2 separate regions of the Homo sapiens genome follow, and region 2 is linked to region 1. Evidence: fine-mapped expression QTL. Tissue or cell type: prefrontal cortex. Region 1 holds a variant in brackets; the other region holds the start of a gene. All regions are shown on one strand. Distances are from middle to middle.

Region 1 (8,104 bases):
GCTGAGTTTGTGGAAAGTTGTTACAGCAGCAAAAGAGTACTAATACAGCATCTTACTCTGATTCTAGTTTTTCTATTAACTCTGCTTGCGAGCAAGAGAAACTAGTTGAGCTTCCCTAAGCAAACAAAACAGGCTTTACTGTAAGCAGATAGGGAAGCCACGGCTGGAAAGCAGTGCCGCTGCAGAAAGGTTCTGGGATTATAGAGGAAAGGCGCTTCTAGGAGGACTCCTCTTCTTCCTCCTCACCGCACTCCACTCCTTCCTTCTCTTGTTTCTGGGAATAGACTTTCTCCATAATCAGTCCCTGGAGCATAAGAGGGCTGGTACCTCAGCCTCCCTTTGCCTTCTCTTTCTTCATGAGACCAGCCCAGGCTGTGACTAGAACCTCATTCTCAATTCCCAAGTCCCAGGGAAATAACTCTGTTTGTTACTGTTTGGGTTAGGTGCCTGTTGTGGGTTGAATTTTGACTTCTTAAAAAAGATATGTTGAAGCCCTAGACCCCTGCACCTCAGATTGGGACCTTATTTGGAGATAGGGTCATTGCAGAAGTAATTAATTAAGATGATGATACTGGAGGCCAGGCGCGTGGTGGCTCACGCTTGTAATCCCAGCATTTTGGGAGGCTGAGATGGTCAGATCACCTGAGGTCAGAAGTTCAAGACCATCCTGACCAACATGGTGAAACCCTGACTCTACTAAAAATACAAAAATTAGCAGGGCGTGGAAGTGCGTGCCTGTAATCCCAGCTACTAGGGAGACTGAGGCAGGAGAATCACTTGAACCCAGGAGGTGGAGGTTGCAGTGAGCCAAGATCGTGACACTACACTCCAGCCTGGGTGACAGAGCAAGACTTTGTCTCAAAAAAAAAAAAAAAAAAAAAAGATGAGGATACTGGAGTACAGTGGGCCTTGATCCAATGTGACTGGCATCCTTATGAGAAGAGGAAAATTGGGACACAGACACAGAGGGAAGATGAAGAGGGAGGCAGAGTCTGCATTTATACTGCCGCAAGCCAAGGAATACCCAGCTACCAGAAGCTGGAAAGGACAAGGAAGGATCCTCCCCTGGAGGCTTCCGGGGAGCATGGCCTGGTCAACACCTTGATTTCAGACTTCCGGCCTCCAAAACTGTGAAACAATAATTATCTGTTGTTTTAAGCGATCTATTTTTGTGGTACTTTGTGATGGGAGCCCTAGGAAACGAATAGAGTGCCTGAGCTGGATCCAATCAGCTATGCCTAGGGGACCAGGCCTTAGAGGATAAATATGGCTCCTCAAGACTCACCCCTATGGCTTGAGGGGTGGATGCCAGTTTCCAAAGAAGAAGGAATCATTGCAAGTTGGGAAGATACACTGAAAAGCTGTCTACTGTAGCTTCCTAGAGCTAGGACAGTATGATATTCTGGTTTTCTTGTTTGTTTTACTTTAAAATCTTAGCTCTTTTACCCTTCTGGAATGCTTTGCAGTGCACAGTGTGAGGTAGGAATCTGTTACTTATTTTCCACACTGTAATAATTCGCCTAATAGCATTTATTAGTAATTATGATTACAGCTTCCTCTCAACATTGCATTGCTTCTTGTTTATTATATAGTGAGCACCGATGTCCAAAATATTTCTGGAATCCCTTTGCTATTTCCATTCATTTGATTGATTTTCCACATTCCCGATATGGTAATGAGAAGACTCTGGAGGCTTAATTTCCAACTGGAGTTCTAGACCGTGGTTATCCCTTACTTTATTCCCTCCCCTAAGTGCTTTACCTATGATGATTTGAAATATCTAATTGCTCTTATTTTTGGGGGTGGGGTGGGGGTGTTTACAAAACAGAACAGAAGAACTGCTGATGGAAGAAGCTGTGCTGCTTGCTTTGTGTGTGTGTGTGTGTGTGTGTGTGTGTGTGTGTGAGAGAGAGAGAGAGAGAGAGAAAGAGTCTTCTCTGTTGCTCACTGGAGTGCAGTGGGGTGATCACAGGTCTCTGCAGCCTCGACACCCACCTCCCTGCCTCCCACCCCCACCCCTACACACCCCCAGGCTCAAGTGATCCTCCCCACCTTAGCTTCCAAAGTAGCTGGGACTGACCCAGGAGGCTAGATAGCAAGAGACAGTAGAGGCCAACATGTCACCATGCCTGGCTAATTTTTATGTTTTGTACAGACAGGGTCTCCCTCTGTTGCCCAGGCTGGTCTCAAACTCCTGACCTCAGGTGATCCTCCTGCCTTGGCCTCCCAAAGTGCCGGGATTACAGGTATGAGCCACTGCACCTGGCCTGCTCTCCTTTTTGAACCTGGTCTCTGGCCCTGTTAACATATCTGGTCTTCAGGATGAGGATAAGTCAGAAAATAGCCAAGGCTGCGTATTGAACTTCATAATAAATATGTGCCTGGTGCATCATAAGCACTTGATAGACGTTACATAATTATCAGAAAGAAGACCAGAGAACACCTACCTCAAACTCTTGCCAGCATCCAACATCAGCTCATTCCCAAATGCCCCGCACCTGAAGGCATTCATGAGGCTGGAAAGGGGGATGTAATGAGCTAAATCATGCCACCCCAAAAATGTCCATGCCCTAATCCCTAGAACCGATGCATCTCTTTCCTTACATACTAAAAGGGACTTTGTAGACGTGGCGAGATTCATGATCTTCATGGGGGAAGGGCATCCTGGATAATCTAGATGGGCCAATACAATCACAGGGGTCCTGTCAGGGGGCAGTAGGAGAGTCAGAGAAAAAGGAGATGTGATGACAGAAGTTGGAGAAAGGGACCACCCAAAGGTATGCACGCGGCCTCTGGGAGCAGGAAAGATGGATTCTCCCCTGAAGCCCCCAAGAAGGAATACAGCCCTGCTCACACCTTGATCTTAGCTCAGTGAGACCCATTTTGGACTTCTTACTTCCAGAATGTAAGATAAATTTGTGTTGCTTTAAACTACTAAATGTCTGGTAATTTGTAACAGTAGCAATAAAAACCTGATAGGAGGAAATCAGAATTTCACTGAACATTCTGCAAAATTTGCTCTTCTGGGCACAAGTCTTTGTTTAACTGCAGGGCTTAAGGCCCGCAGAACTTAGTGGTGCCTTTCTTGGCATGCCACCCTGGCAGGTTTTCACCATCCTTCAGGCCTTTCTCTCCACCTCTGTGTACCAAGCCTGATTTCTGCTGTCCCCAAGAATCTCCTTTCATTCAACCACCTTTGCGGCCTACATTTGATTAGCTATTCTAAAGTAGTGGTGTCAGAAGCATTTGAACCAGAGCAACTCCATCTTCAATAGGCGCTGGGTAAAATAAGGCTGAGACCTACTGGGCTGCATTCCCAGCAGATTAAGGCATTCTAAGTCACAGGATGAGATAGGAGGTCGGCACAAGATACAGGTCAGAAATACCTTGCTGATAAAACAGATTGCGGTAAAGAAGCCGGCCAAAACCCACCACAACCAAAATGTTGACGAGAGTGACCTCTGGTCGTCCTCACTGCTACGCTCCCATCAGCACCACGACAGTTTACAAATGCCATGGCAACGTCAGGAAGTTACCTTACATGGTCTAAAAAGGTGAGGCATGAATAATCCACCCCTTGTTTAGCATATCATCAAGAAATAACCCTAACAATGGGCAACCAGCAGCCCTTGGGGCTGCTCTGTCTATGGAGTAGCCATTCTTTATTCCTTTACTTTTCTAATAAACTTGCTTTCACTTTATGGACTTGCCCTGAATTCTTTCTTGTGTCAGATCCAAGAACCCTCTCTTGGGAAGGACTCCCGGTAACAGTGTGTGTCTGGTAACAGTGTGTGTTTGGGAGGAGGGTTACTAGAAATAGGTAGAAATTCAAGGAGCAAACATGAAATATAAAACTTCGCGTATTTTCTTCCCCAGCATCAGGCCGAAGAGAAAGAAAGCTACAGACTGAGAATCAGAGACATTGGCAATTTGCAATCTAGCTAGGAACCCTGAACTGCACTATACTGAACATTTGCTCTGTGCGTTATAAAGTCTGGGGCATGGGCAGAAGTTCCCAGCCTTTTAGTCCAGACCCAGGAGGCTAGATACTGAGAGACAGTAGAGGCGATGGTGAAAGTGTAGTTCTTAGTTTTGAAAATCCAGATTTGAATAATCATTCTGAGGATCACGGTTCCTGGTCTTACTTCCTCCAAGGGGCCCCAAACGGAGCCCGCTGCAGGGTGAGCTCCTCAAAGCCGCTGAACCCAGAGGGCGCATCACTCCAACCTCTAACCCAAGACATCGACTTCTGGGTCCGTGTCACTTAAATAAGTTTATAAAGTGCACGTCTCTGGCACTAACCAAGAAAGGCAAGTTAGCAAGAAAGCGCGCTTTTTAACTGTCCTCTCCCAGAATAAAAGGCCCTTACTTTTTATTCTAGATTCTGGATAATTTTATTTTTTCTTTCCGTCTGTTACTAGTTGGGAGCTAAACACTGGCCAGGGTCCCAGCGGCTGCTGGAAAGGCGCCTTCCTAGGAGCAGAAGGCTCGCTTAGGAGACACTGGGGGCAGGGAGCGAACTCGCGGCTCTTTGTCCCCGCAGCAGTTCGGTCGAGGCTATTTCCCGCCAGGCCGAGCCCCTGGTCTGAGCGCCCGATAGCGGGGTGCGGCGAGGAGACTCCGGGAACACTCGCTGGGCAAGCAGCTAGCACAGCCCCCCATCTCCTCCGGGTTGGGGGACGCAGGCGCGGGCCTAGGCCGCCGCGGGGGCGGGGACCACCCACGAAGTCCAGCGCCCCGCCCCGGACGCGCCCGCCCCGCCTGCCTCGCGCGCTCCTCCCGGCGCCAGGAGGCCCAGCGCACCGCGCCGAGCTTCCTCGGAGTCCTCCCTACAGCCGACTCAGGGAGAAGGTCCTGGAGGGCCCGGGTA[G/A]GGGAAGAGAGGGCCTTCTTCCTCCTCATTCCCCGTCCCGGCCCCAGCGGAGTGCTCATGTCCCTCCTCCCCATCCCCCTCCTGTTTTGGGTGACAAATTAATTTTAATTAGAAAAACACAGATCAGGTTTTGGAACAAAATTATGCTGTTCCTAGATTGGAACTGGGACTCTTTCGACCTAATTTAGAGCAGAGGGCGAGGCTGTGGGAGGGTGGCAATGCATCGGTTGAAGGAGACGCGCGTGTGGCGGGCAGCAAGGGGGAGGTGTGTGGCGTTTAGGAGAGTCTCCAGTGCCGTCCTCTGCAGGGCCCTTCTACACCTCCCCTTCCAGTTGCCAGAATGGAAAATTCATGGAGTCCCGCGTAGCCCAGGTCAACACGCTTTTATTGCCACTTCTGGCTCCCCTCGTCCCAGCAAGATTCCTACCTCTTACCCTGTAGGAATACTGAGCTCCGATGCAGGGGAATGGGGTGGGGGTGTTACCACTTCTCCTCTGCACACTGCCAAGTTAAAGAAAACCCTGCTTGCTGGAGAGGGAGGGCCAGACAGGGAGGAATTCAAGGGCATGTATGGCTCAGTCCCACTTCTGACTGCAGAGTATAGGGACCAGGGTTCCAAACTTTTTTTCGAAGTAAGGGAGGTGGGGAAGAATTTGGCTGCTGTTGTACCCCGTGTCCTAGCTGCCATGTTTCCATGGAAATGAAGGCGGGGCAGGATGTAGCTCACTCTGACTACCTGGGAGGATGGCAGGACAGGCATTTGGTAAACATATCTCCCTCCACTCCTACCTAGCACATACGGCTGTCCCCAGCCGACCCCCAGGCTCTCTCCTCACTGCCTGCTCCACTCCCTTCCCTTCTGGAGCTGGTATCATGCCAAGTGGAGTCCAGGCAGGGCTGCCAGTGCTACTCTCCACAGCCAGGTCTCACTGGCACGTTAGGATCTAAGTATGTCCGCCAAGCTCAGGAGCATCCCTGCTAGAGCTGGTGGTGGCAGTGCCTCGGTGAAAAGGCAGCAGCAGTACCCCCAACTCTCTGTGCAACTGCTGTTTCCCAAACAAAACTGAAAACATAAACCCAAACACTTAAGGGTATCACTCTGGCACAATGCTGAGGGCTGGGATGGGGGAGAGGAGGCGCATCCTCCTGAGACTGGAGCCACCTGTGCACCCTGCCTTCTGCCCATCTGGAGTTTGCTTCTTCCCACTGGGCTGTCACTGGGGGGCTGGAATCCAAATCTCCATTTGGTGCTGCTTTCAGCACCCACTGCTGTTCGTTTATGAGGCTTGCCAGTTTCCATGGTGAGGAGGTGCAGGATGGATTCTCAGTACCATGGGTCAGCCCGGTGCTGCTGGTTGTAGAGCTGTAGCTTGATCTGATCTTTGATCTGATTCACTAGGATCTGGGACAGCAGAATTCCCACCAGCTGGGAGAGGCAAGAAGGAATTGGGCACTCAGCAGTGAGTGATGGCCTTGTTTTCCCTGGCTCGATCTTCCCAGTGCGGCCAGCACTATCCCTTTCCCTACCCCTCAGCCATGTCAGTGCCTGACACCCTCGCTGATCCCCAGGTGCCTTCCCCAAAACAAAGGAGTCTTTACAGAGTGTGTGGGACCAACAAGTCTCACAGGGTAAGTTACCTGGGGGATGGCCAGGCCTAGAGCCACACCACCAAGTAAGAATAGGTTGCTGTGTATCCAGTTGACCAACTTGTCAATACAGCCATTGGTGTAGATGACTTTGCTAGCTTCCAAGTAGTCAAAGGCCTGCATACCTTGGCCACACATAGTGTTGATCACTGCCTGGGGAAAGAGTTGAAAAGCCAATTGGGACTGTAATTCCAATAACTTTTTGTTTGGGGCCTTAGCTGATGGGCTTCCCACCCTTCCCAAACTCCTAAATTGTCAGAGAATATATGTGGAGGATATTGGGTTGGAAGTTGCCAAATGCAGACTTCCCTTCCTCTGAGAGGTCAGGATCCAGGTCTCTTTGCTCTGGGTGGTGGAATAATCTGTACAACAAACCCCTAAGACACAAGTTTACTTATATAACAAACCTGCACAGGTACTGAATCTGAACTTAAAACTTAAATCTGTCCCTTCTGAACTCCATGTGGACTACATGAGTATGAGGTTAATAGAAGCATCAGGTTGGGGTGAAGAAAAACACCTGACAGCTGTCCCACATGACTGATCGGTGAAGCTAGGGGATGGGGATCCCCAGTAGCAGCTGCCCCCATCAGAAAGTGACTCAGCTCGCTGCCTAGGAGGAAATGAGGCAGGATGCTGGCTCACCTGGTCAGGAGTAGGCAAGCAACAGGAGTAAGGCACAGAGCAGCGCTCTCGACTGGGGTTGTCTTCTGAGCAGTTGAAATACATGTTCTGAGACCAGTCCTTGTAGGAAATCCCTCCACAGCAGCTAAACTGCAACAAAACCCACCAGAGGTTAAGAATCACCCACCCCTCACACTGAGGTGACCAGGGGAATTCTCAGAGCCACCAAAAGTCTATAGCAAGCTTCTACTGGGAACTTTAGGTTGTGTTTTAACACAGCCTTAAACTTTGAGCTCCAGCTTCCCAGTTGCCTTCGCCTGAAGATATTCTCACTTCTTAATTTCTATTACTTCGTATATCTTGTTATAACTTACCACTGTGCTTGTTGGTATTACAGTTGTACATATATTTTGTTTTACATACTCAGCTATAATCTTCTTGAGAGAAGTTTCTGGCTTTGCAGGCAAATGGAAGTGATCAAAAGTATTGGCTGAAATAATTACAGTATCAGTGCTGAAAAACTTCTCCTTAAGATAGAGAAAACACAGGGGAGGAATCTTCAATATTGTGAGTCAATCATTACTCCATGAGAGCCAACTGGATCTCAAAGTCAAGTGTCTATTGCACCAGAGGAAGGGGAACTCAGGACTTGTCTCAGAAGCACTTTTACTTAAAAGTTAACTTTTTTGGCCAGGTGCTGTGGCTCACACCGGTAATCCCAGCACTTTGGGAGGCCGAGGAGGGCAGATCACCTGAGGTCAGGAGTTCAAGACCAGCCTGGCCAATATTGCAAAACCCCATCTTTACTAAAAATACAAGAATTAGCTGGGCGTGGTTTGGCAGGCACCTGTAATCCCAGCTACTCAGGAGGCTGAGGCAGGCAGATTCACTTGAACCCAGGAGGCGGATGTTGCAGTGGGCCAAGATCACGCCATTGTACTCCAGCCTGGGTAACAGAGCAAG
Region 2 (8,104 bases), 330 kb before region 1:
CCATTGCCTGGGAGGGTTGGGAGGGAGTAGGGGTACAGAGAGGGGCAAGAGAGAAAGGTGGATTACAAAAAAATGGGTGATGGCTGTATTTACAATCTTGATTGTGGTGATGGCTTAATGAATGCACACATTTGCCAAACCTATCAAAGTGTGCATTTTATTTTTTATTTATTTTTTGAAACAGGTCTCACTCTGTTGCCCAGGCTGGAGTACAGTGGCACGATCATGGCTCACTGCAGTCTCGATCTCCCAGACTCAAGCGATCCTCCCACCTCAGCCTCCTGAGTAACTGGGACTACAGATTTGCACCACCATGTCCAACTAATTTTTTCTACTTTTTATAGAGATGAGGGTCTCATTATGGTGCCCAAGCAGGTCTCGAACTCCTGAGCTCAAGCTATCCTCTCGCCTCAGCCTCCCAAAATTCTGGGTTTACAGGCATGAGCTACCATGCCTAAAGCATGCATTTTAAACATGTAAAATTTATTGTATATACATTCCACCTCAATAAATCTGTTAAGAAATTATTACATGGGAATAATAAAGGTTTTGTTTCTGGGCCCATCCATTCCTTGGATTGGTTCAATACAACTTTGTGGCTCTTGGCTTTTCCTGGTCTCAGAACATGCAGCTCCCAACTTAAAACCCTCCAAACTCCTTAAGGAAAACCACTTGACTCCAGCCACACTGGACTTTCTTCTAGTTCCCAACACTCCGAGCTTCTCCCTGGGCAATGCTTGCTCTTCCTGCAGACCTTCTAATTGAAGGGGCAGAATTCGTTGCTTCTCTTTACGCTAGCCTCTGCTCAAATATCACCTCTTTAGAAAAACCTCCTTGACAGGCTGGGCATGGTGGCTCACAGTGGCTCAGCACTTTGGGAGGCCGAGGCCGGTGGATCATCTGAGGTCAGGAGTTCAAGACCAGCCTGGACAACATGGTAAAACCCCATCTCTACTAAAAATACAAAAAAAATTAGCCAGGCACGGTGGCGGGTGCCTGTAATCCCAGCTACTCAGGAGGCTGAGGCAGGAGAATTGCTTGAACCGGGGAGGCGGAGGTTGCAGTGAACCGAGATCGCGCCATTGCACTCCAGCCTGGGCGACAAGAGTGAAACTCTGTCTCAAAAAAAAAAAAGAGAAAAAGAGAAAAAGAAAGACCTCCCTGACACCATGTCTATATTCTGTCTGTAACTGGAGTGACCATATAATTTATTGCCCAAATCAAGATACTTCAACAAATATAAACAAACATAAACTGAGACTGTCCCAGGCTAGGGACAGGGGGAAGTACAGTGGTCTGTCTTTAACAGTCTCCCAGCAACCCCAGTAGAGTCACTGTCCATCTCCTTCCCCGCACCACTTTTCACTAGTTAATAGTAATTGTTGTTTATGTTTATTGTTTGTTTCCCTCACCAGAGATTCTGTCTATAAATTTACCACTGAATTCCCCAGCCTACACCAATATCTGCCACACTGCAAGGATGCATAAATATCTGCTGAGTGAATGAATACATCACAACTGAGATGCAATGCAATAACAGGATTTAGAAAGCAAATGTGGATTTCTGCTTTTCTGAATTTTAAGATGCCTCCTTCATTCATTCAACAAGTATTTAACAAAAATCTACTGTGTCCCAGGCCCTGTATTAGATGGGGAGCAAAGGAGATCTCACGATGCTTACAGTCCAGTGAGGTCTGAGGAAGACACTAGTCACCTAATCACAAATGCATTTACTCACGACCCATGCTGTGAAGAAAGGGCCCTATTGGCCAGGCATGGTGGTTCACACCTGTAATCCCGGCACTCTGGGAGGCCGAGGCAGGTGGATCACTTGCACCCAGTTTGAGACCAGTCTGGGAAAGATGGCAAAATCCGGTCTCTACAAAAATTTAAAAAATTAGCTGGGCTCAGTGGCACACACCTGTAGTCCCCAGTACTCAGGCTGCTGAGGTGGGAGGACCCCTTGAGCCCAGGAATTCAAGGCCAAAGTGAGCTATGTATGATGCCATCGCACTCCAGCCTGGGCAACAAAGCAAAACCCTATCTCTAAAAAAAAAAAAACAAAAACAAAGAAATTAATAAAGAAAGACCCTATAATGCCTATAACACATGGAATTATAATAGCACAAGATGGGCAAGGGCTGACCTCATCTGGGCCATCAAAGGAAGGGCTCCCTAAGCGTGGCCTGTGGGCCGAGAGTAGGGAATTCCAAGACCAACAGCCTATGCAAAGTCTCTGAAGCCGGAGAGAAGGTGCACAAAGAGACGGAAACCCAAAAAAGGCCAACATGGCCAGCCCACAGGCAGCCAAGGGGGCCAGTGAGAGCAGCTAAGGAAGGAAAGGTAGGCAAGGTTCCGCTCTGGCTTGCAGGCTCTGTGCACTAATGTGTTTGACCCTCATTCAAGGAGCATGAATTAACTGGCATTTGCTTCAATGGCTATGTACAGCATTCTGCCTCAGTTCCCTGGGCCCTGAAAGAAATGGCAGTTGGCTGGGCACAGTGGCTCACACCTGTAATCCCAGCAATTTGAGAGGCCAAGGCGGGCGGATCCCTTGAGCCCAGGCGTTTGAGACCAGCCTGGGCAACATGGCGAAACCCTGTCTCTACTAAAAATACAGAGATTAGCCAGGCATGGTGATGCCTGCCTACGGTCCGAGCTACTTGGGAGGCTGAGGCGGGAGGATCACTTGAGCCTCAGAGATGGAGGCTGCAGTCAGCTGTGATCACACCACTGTACTCCAGCCTGTGTGACAAAGTAAGACCCTGTCAAAAAAAAAAAAAAAAAAGGTAATAGCTCTTTACCTTTAATAGCTCATGGAATGACTCTCAAACCAAGAAATTTTTACTTAATCCTTTTACACGAAACAAACTGGAAAGAACACAGAAACTTAATGATTTCTACACTAGAGTCTAATGAGGAATAAGGCTTTCCAAGGAAAAACAGGCAAAGCACCAGAGGTGAGGTGCAAAGGGCTGTGGGCGCTGAAGGAGCGATGGGGAAGCAGGAGGCAGGGTCCTTCTGATCCAAGCCTCAAAGAAAACGGATCAAGACAGGGAAGGCGCAAGGGGCTTCCAGAAGAACGCGGGTTTAGTGTGGGATGCAGGGTTTTTGTTCGTTTTGTTTGTTGTTGTTTAGCAGAGAAGATATGGCAGAGAAAGCTCGAGGTTGAGGCCCCTTTAGCAAGGGCTCTGTGCGCCCAGCTCAAGCGTGCAGTACTTAGTTTAGCAGACAATGATGCCTCCCTGAGGACTTGGGGCAGGGGCTGGAAGGTCACAGCCCTTCTGGAAAGAGCAGCGAGGGTTGGAAGGAGGTCGTAAGTGACTGGATGAGGGCTGAGAACAGGAATGCTGTTGACAGCAAGGTGGTGGTACCAGGCTCACTCTCTGCTTCCTGAGTCTGCAGAGCAGTGGAGAATCCCGCGCGGGCACCCAGGGTGGCTACGGCAGCTAACAGCTCGGACCCGTCACTGTGGGCATGGCCTGGCGCCCTGACGTGCCACACCACGGTGCCACCCTCCCTTTATTTTCCACATCAACCGTCTGGGTGTGGGGGCTGCTCAACAGGACCACGACCTAAAACCTGGAAAGACGGCTGGCCTGACTCCGCGGCTGCTGCGCCCCCAGCAGGCGCGGACCGCCGGGCACCCCTTGTCCCTCCATCTTTTCGCCACGCGTTGAGGTCGACCCCAGGGAGAGGCGGTGACCTCGGCGCCCGCGCCTCTCCGGGACAGCCTGGGGCTCCACGGCGCGCGCCCTGGCCCCGGGTACTTTAGGGAGACGGGGATTACCATGGCGATTCTCAGCCGAGCAGGCAGGCGTGGTGGACTCTCCCGATCCCGAAGCCCTTAGCATCCACCGGGGCCGCTGCCCCCAGCGCCCGTTCCCCTAGCACCCCCGGCCCCTTCTCGGCCCTCCTCAGGGAACCGCCACGGGCCCAGCCTCACTACGCCTCCCCGCCACGCCTCGCTGGGAGGAGCGCGGCCGGCTCGGGAGGCAGCCAGCCGCGGAGCCGCCTGGACGCGAGGCACCTGCTTGCCCCACGCGGCACCTAGGCCGCCGCAGCTGTGGGCGCTGGGCCGGCGTGCGCCTCGGGGGCGGGGCCGCGCGCACAATCACCGGGCGTGGGGCAGGGCCTCGCCGTGGTTACCGTTGCCAGGGCAAAGCGGCAGCGCGCGGAGGGTGAGCGGAGCGGGGTTCCGGGCTTGCGCGCGCGGGATGGGCCGTCACCTAGTACGAGGCCGACCGCGGCCTCCAGCGCCCGGAAACCCAGTTCGGCGCTTTAGCGTCTGGGTTTGGGCTGCCGGAGCGGCGGGCGCGGGGCGAGGGGGCGGGCGCGGGGCGAGGGGGCGGGCGCGGGGCGAGGGGGCGGGCGCGGGCGGCGCTCCCACTGGGGTGGCACTGGGGTGAGAGCGCAGGCTAGGCCCGCTCACTCGGCCAACCTGGGAGAGATCATCGGAGAAGCTCTTTTGGGAAACGAGCATAAGGACTGTGACGGTGAAGGGAGAATATCATGGGAAATGTTTGCAAAAGAGCCGGATAAAGAGAGTAAGGGCCCGAGAGACTAAAGGGGTGGGGAGGGAGTTCATGTGCAGGTAGGATTGGGCGAGAAAGGTACAGTAGGTACAGTTTTGCCTCCAACCTTGCCAGTTCCAGCCTCCCTCCCTGCAGGTGAAGTCTACACTTCGGGTGGTACGACTCATTCTTTTTTATGACTGGTCATTCCTTTTTTTTTTTTTTGAGACCGAGTCTCTCTCTGTCGCCCAGGTTGGAGTGCAGTGGCGCCATCTCGGTTCACTGCAACCTCCGCCTCCCAAGTTTAAACCATTCTCCTGCCTCAGCCTCTTGAGTAGCTGGGATTACAGATGCGTACCACTATGCCCGGCTAATTTTTGTATTTTTAGTAGAGATGGGGTTTCGCCATGTTGGTCACGCTGGTCTCGAACTTCTGACCTCAGGTGATCTGCCCGCCTCAGCCTCCCAAAGTGCTGGGATTACAGACGTGAGCCACTGCCCGGCCTATCATTCCTTTTTATTCAACAGTTATTGAGCATCTGCCACGTGCCTGACACTCTTCCAGGCCCTGGAAATTGAGCTCTGAATGAGGCAAAGTCCTTGTTCTTTTAAGGGGTGATTTGGGGGAGGTGGTCGTGGCTGAAATGGAGGGCCTGGCAGACATTAAAAGTGATAGGGACAGTATGGCATATTGCATTAAATTGATGTGACCACTGGGTGCTCTTTTAGATTGGTGACTGGGGAAGGCCTCTCTGAGGAGGTGACGTTAAAACAGATCTGGATGACAAGGAGCAGTCAATTATGCCAAAATTAGGGACAGGGGGAGGAGGCTAGACCAAGAAGCAGGAGTAGGGTCCTGGAAGGCTCTGCAAGGATGTGGTGTTTTGTTTGCTTTCTCTTGAAAGACAAACTGGCTTCCAAAGAGGACTGTTTATGTTCTAGGTTCTCTTACATATGCTTTCCCTAATCCTTCATTAACAGAGCAAACCCAACTTCCAGCTACTTTTAATATGTCTGTGAGTTTTTCTTATGAGTCCATATGCCCTGGATATGGCAAATTCTCCTGCCCTCCACCTGCACTTTCTTCTCTTCTTGCGCCTGTCTTCATCCCTGGATGGGGCTGGCCCACCCCAGCCGCTTACACTTCTCTGGGTTATCTCAGCTCTCCCAAGGTTACCCCTATGGGATCACTCCCAAATCTGTTCCAGCCCTGCTTTTCCTGAGCTCCAGATCAGAGATCCAGAGCCCTGCTACAAGGTTGTTTTGTTTTCTTTCTTTTCTTTTCTTTTCTTTTTCTTTTCTTTTCTTTTTTTTTTTTTTTTGAGATGGAGTCTTGCTCTGTTGCCCAGGCTGGAGTGCAATGGCACGATCACTGCTCACTGCAACCTCTGCCCCTTGGGTTCAAGCAATTCTCCTGCCTCAGCCTCCCAAGTAGCTGGGATTACAAAGCATGCGCTATCACGCCCGGCTAATTTTTGTATTTTTAGTAGAGACAGGGGCCAGGCTGGTCTTGAACTCCTGACCTCAGGTGATCCGCCTGCCTCGGCCTCCCACTGGGATTACAGGCGTGAGCCACTGCTCTGGCCTCCTGCTACAAGTTTTAAAACTCAGCTGTCTTGAAAGTAGATCAGTGGTCGAGGTGTGCCATGGGTGGGGGAGGATTGACTCTGCGGTGGGCTAAGAGGAAAATTCCTGAGTGATGGAAATACTCTCTATCCTGATTGTGGCAGTAGCTACACAGGTGCAGGGCTGGCTGCATTATTTGCATGGCTTAGTGCAAAATGAAAACAGGAAGAAGCAGGGAAAAGTGCCACTAAAGGTACTAAATTAGAAAGCTTTCCTTTTCTCTGTGGTCTCTATCAACCTGTTATGCTGTTTTTGTTTACTGTTTAATGTGTTTCCTTGGGTACGGGAACACTCCCCTTCCTAGCTATCGTCCCATAGCAGATGGGTGGCCCTCGAGGGATTGCACCCTCTGTGCCAGGATGTGCTTGGTGTCATGACTGTGGTGGACAGGATGCTCGCGTGTCTCACTCTGAATGTACGGGGGTATTGCCATGCCCTGCCCTAGATGGGGTTGGGGGTTGGGTAGGGTGAAGGTGGGGATTGGGGGTAGTGGGGGGTGACAAGAGGTGAGACTCAGCAGCAGCTAAGGCACCAACCCCCTTCCCCCAGCAGCCTCCATTTTCCCGTCAGATTTCATTGACAAAACAAAAATTCAAAGGTAAAATTACTAAGAAATTTTCACACTGTGAAACTCAGAGCACTAAACCCCGAGCCTATGGCCCTTCTAAGAGTAGGACTCGGCCAGGCGCGGTGACTCATGTCTGTGATCCCAGCACTTTGAGAGGCCAAGGCGGGTGGATTACCTGCGGTCAGGAGTTCAAGACCAGCCTGACCAACACGGTGAAACCCCATCTCTACTAAAAAATACAAAAATTAGCCAGGCATGGTGGTGGGCACCTGTAATCCCAGCTACTAGGATGCTGAGGCAGAAGAATTGCTTGAACCCGGGAGGCAGAGGTTGCAGTGAGCCGAGATTGTACCACTGCACTCCAGCCTAGGTGACAGAGCAAGACTCCTTCTCAAAAAAAAAAAAAAAAAAAAAAAAAAAAGGAGTAGGACTCTGTGTGACCACTGGGGGGTCAAACAGCCCATGAACCTGGCCCTGCACAGGTATATACATTTGTCAGAATTAATTAAATTATATACTTCAAATGAGTGCAGTTTACAATATATGAATTATAGCTTGATAAAGTTGATTTTGAAACTTCAACTCAGGAACCTTACCCTACCGCATCTAAAATCAAACATGGCTGGGCGCGGTGGCTCACACCTGCAATACTAGCACTTTGGGAGGCTGAGGCAGGTGGATCGCTTGAACTCAGGAGTTCAAGACCAGCCTGGGCAACATGGTGAAACCCCATCTATGCAAAAAAAAAAAAAAAAAAATACAAAATTTACCGGGCATGGTGGCACGCATTTGTGGTTCTGGCTACTTGGGAGGCTGAGGCGGGAAGATCGCTTGAGCCCAGGGAGTCAAGATTGCAGTGAACAGTGATTGCACCACTGCATTCCAGCCTGGGCGACAGAGCAAGACCCTGCCTCTAAATCAATAAAATCAAACACTTCTCTTAGCCAATGTGTATCTCCTTCTGTTTTGGATGATGGCCTCAGCAGCCATCTAGGTACCCACGCTAGGAACTTGTCACCTTTGATCCCTCTCTCTCTCCTTGTATCTAGAACACTCTCATCTGCACCTACTTGAGGCTGCCTCCTGACTTGTTGTTTTTTTTTTTCTTTTTTTGAGATGGAGTTTTGCTCTTTCACCCAGACTGGAGTGAAGTGGCACAATCTCAGCTCACTGCAGCTGCTGCCCCCCGGGTTCAAGCAATTCTCCTGCCTCAGACTCCAGAGTAGCTGGGATTACAGGCGTGTGCTACCACACCTGGTTAATTTTTGTATTTTTAGTACAGACAGGGTTTCACCATTGTTGGCCAGGCTGGTCTTGAACTCCTGACCTCAGGTGATCCGCCTGCCTTGGCCTCCCAAAGTGCTAGGATTACAGGCATGAGCCACTGCGCCCAGCT

Alleles and levels. Positions count from the first base shown, and alleles are read on the strand shown. Sizes are in standard deviations (SD) of each study's normalised expression.
As copies of A replace G in region 1, the expression in prefrontal cortex of the gene that starts at base 4,087 in region 2 goes down (large effect, 1.7 SD a copy in GTEx).

The links. PIP is the estimated chance that this variant, and not a neighbour inherited with it, causes the effect.
Region 2: it holds the start of SMKR1, and the variant in region 1 is fine-mapped to the expression of SMKR1 in prefrontal cortex (GTEx, PIP above 0.99).

What each region holds. Positions count from the first base shown.
Region 1 is chr7:129,165,965-129,174,068 of GRCh38, reverse strand. It overlaps TSPAN33 (tetraspanin 33), which reads right to left. Exons shown (of 8, transcript NM_178562.5): 6 at 7,163-7,291; 7 at 6,509-6,670; 8 at 4,370-6,296. The coding sequence ends at 6,195. Among named protein-coding and RNA genes, the nearest start is that of SMO, 19 kb to the left of the region's middle. RefSeq lists enhancers at 3,304-4,173, 4,243-4,292 and a silencer at 4,663-4,882. The variant G/A (reference allele first, on the strand shown) is at 4,871.
Region 2 is chr7:129,498,514-129,506,617 of GRCh38, reverse strand. It overlaps SMKR1 (small lysine rich protein 1), which reads right to left and starts at 4,087. Exons shown (of 2, transcript NM_001195243.2): 1 at 3,791-4,087. The coding sequence starts at 3,793. RefSeq lists silencers at 3,939-4,278, 4,339-4,388.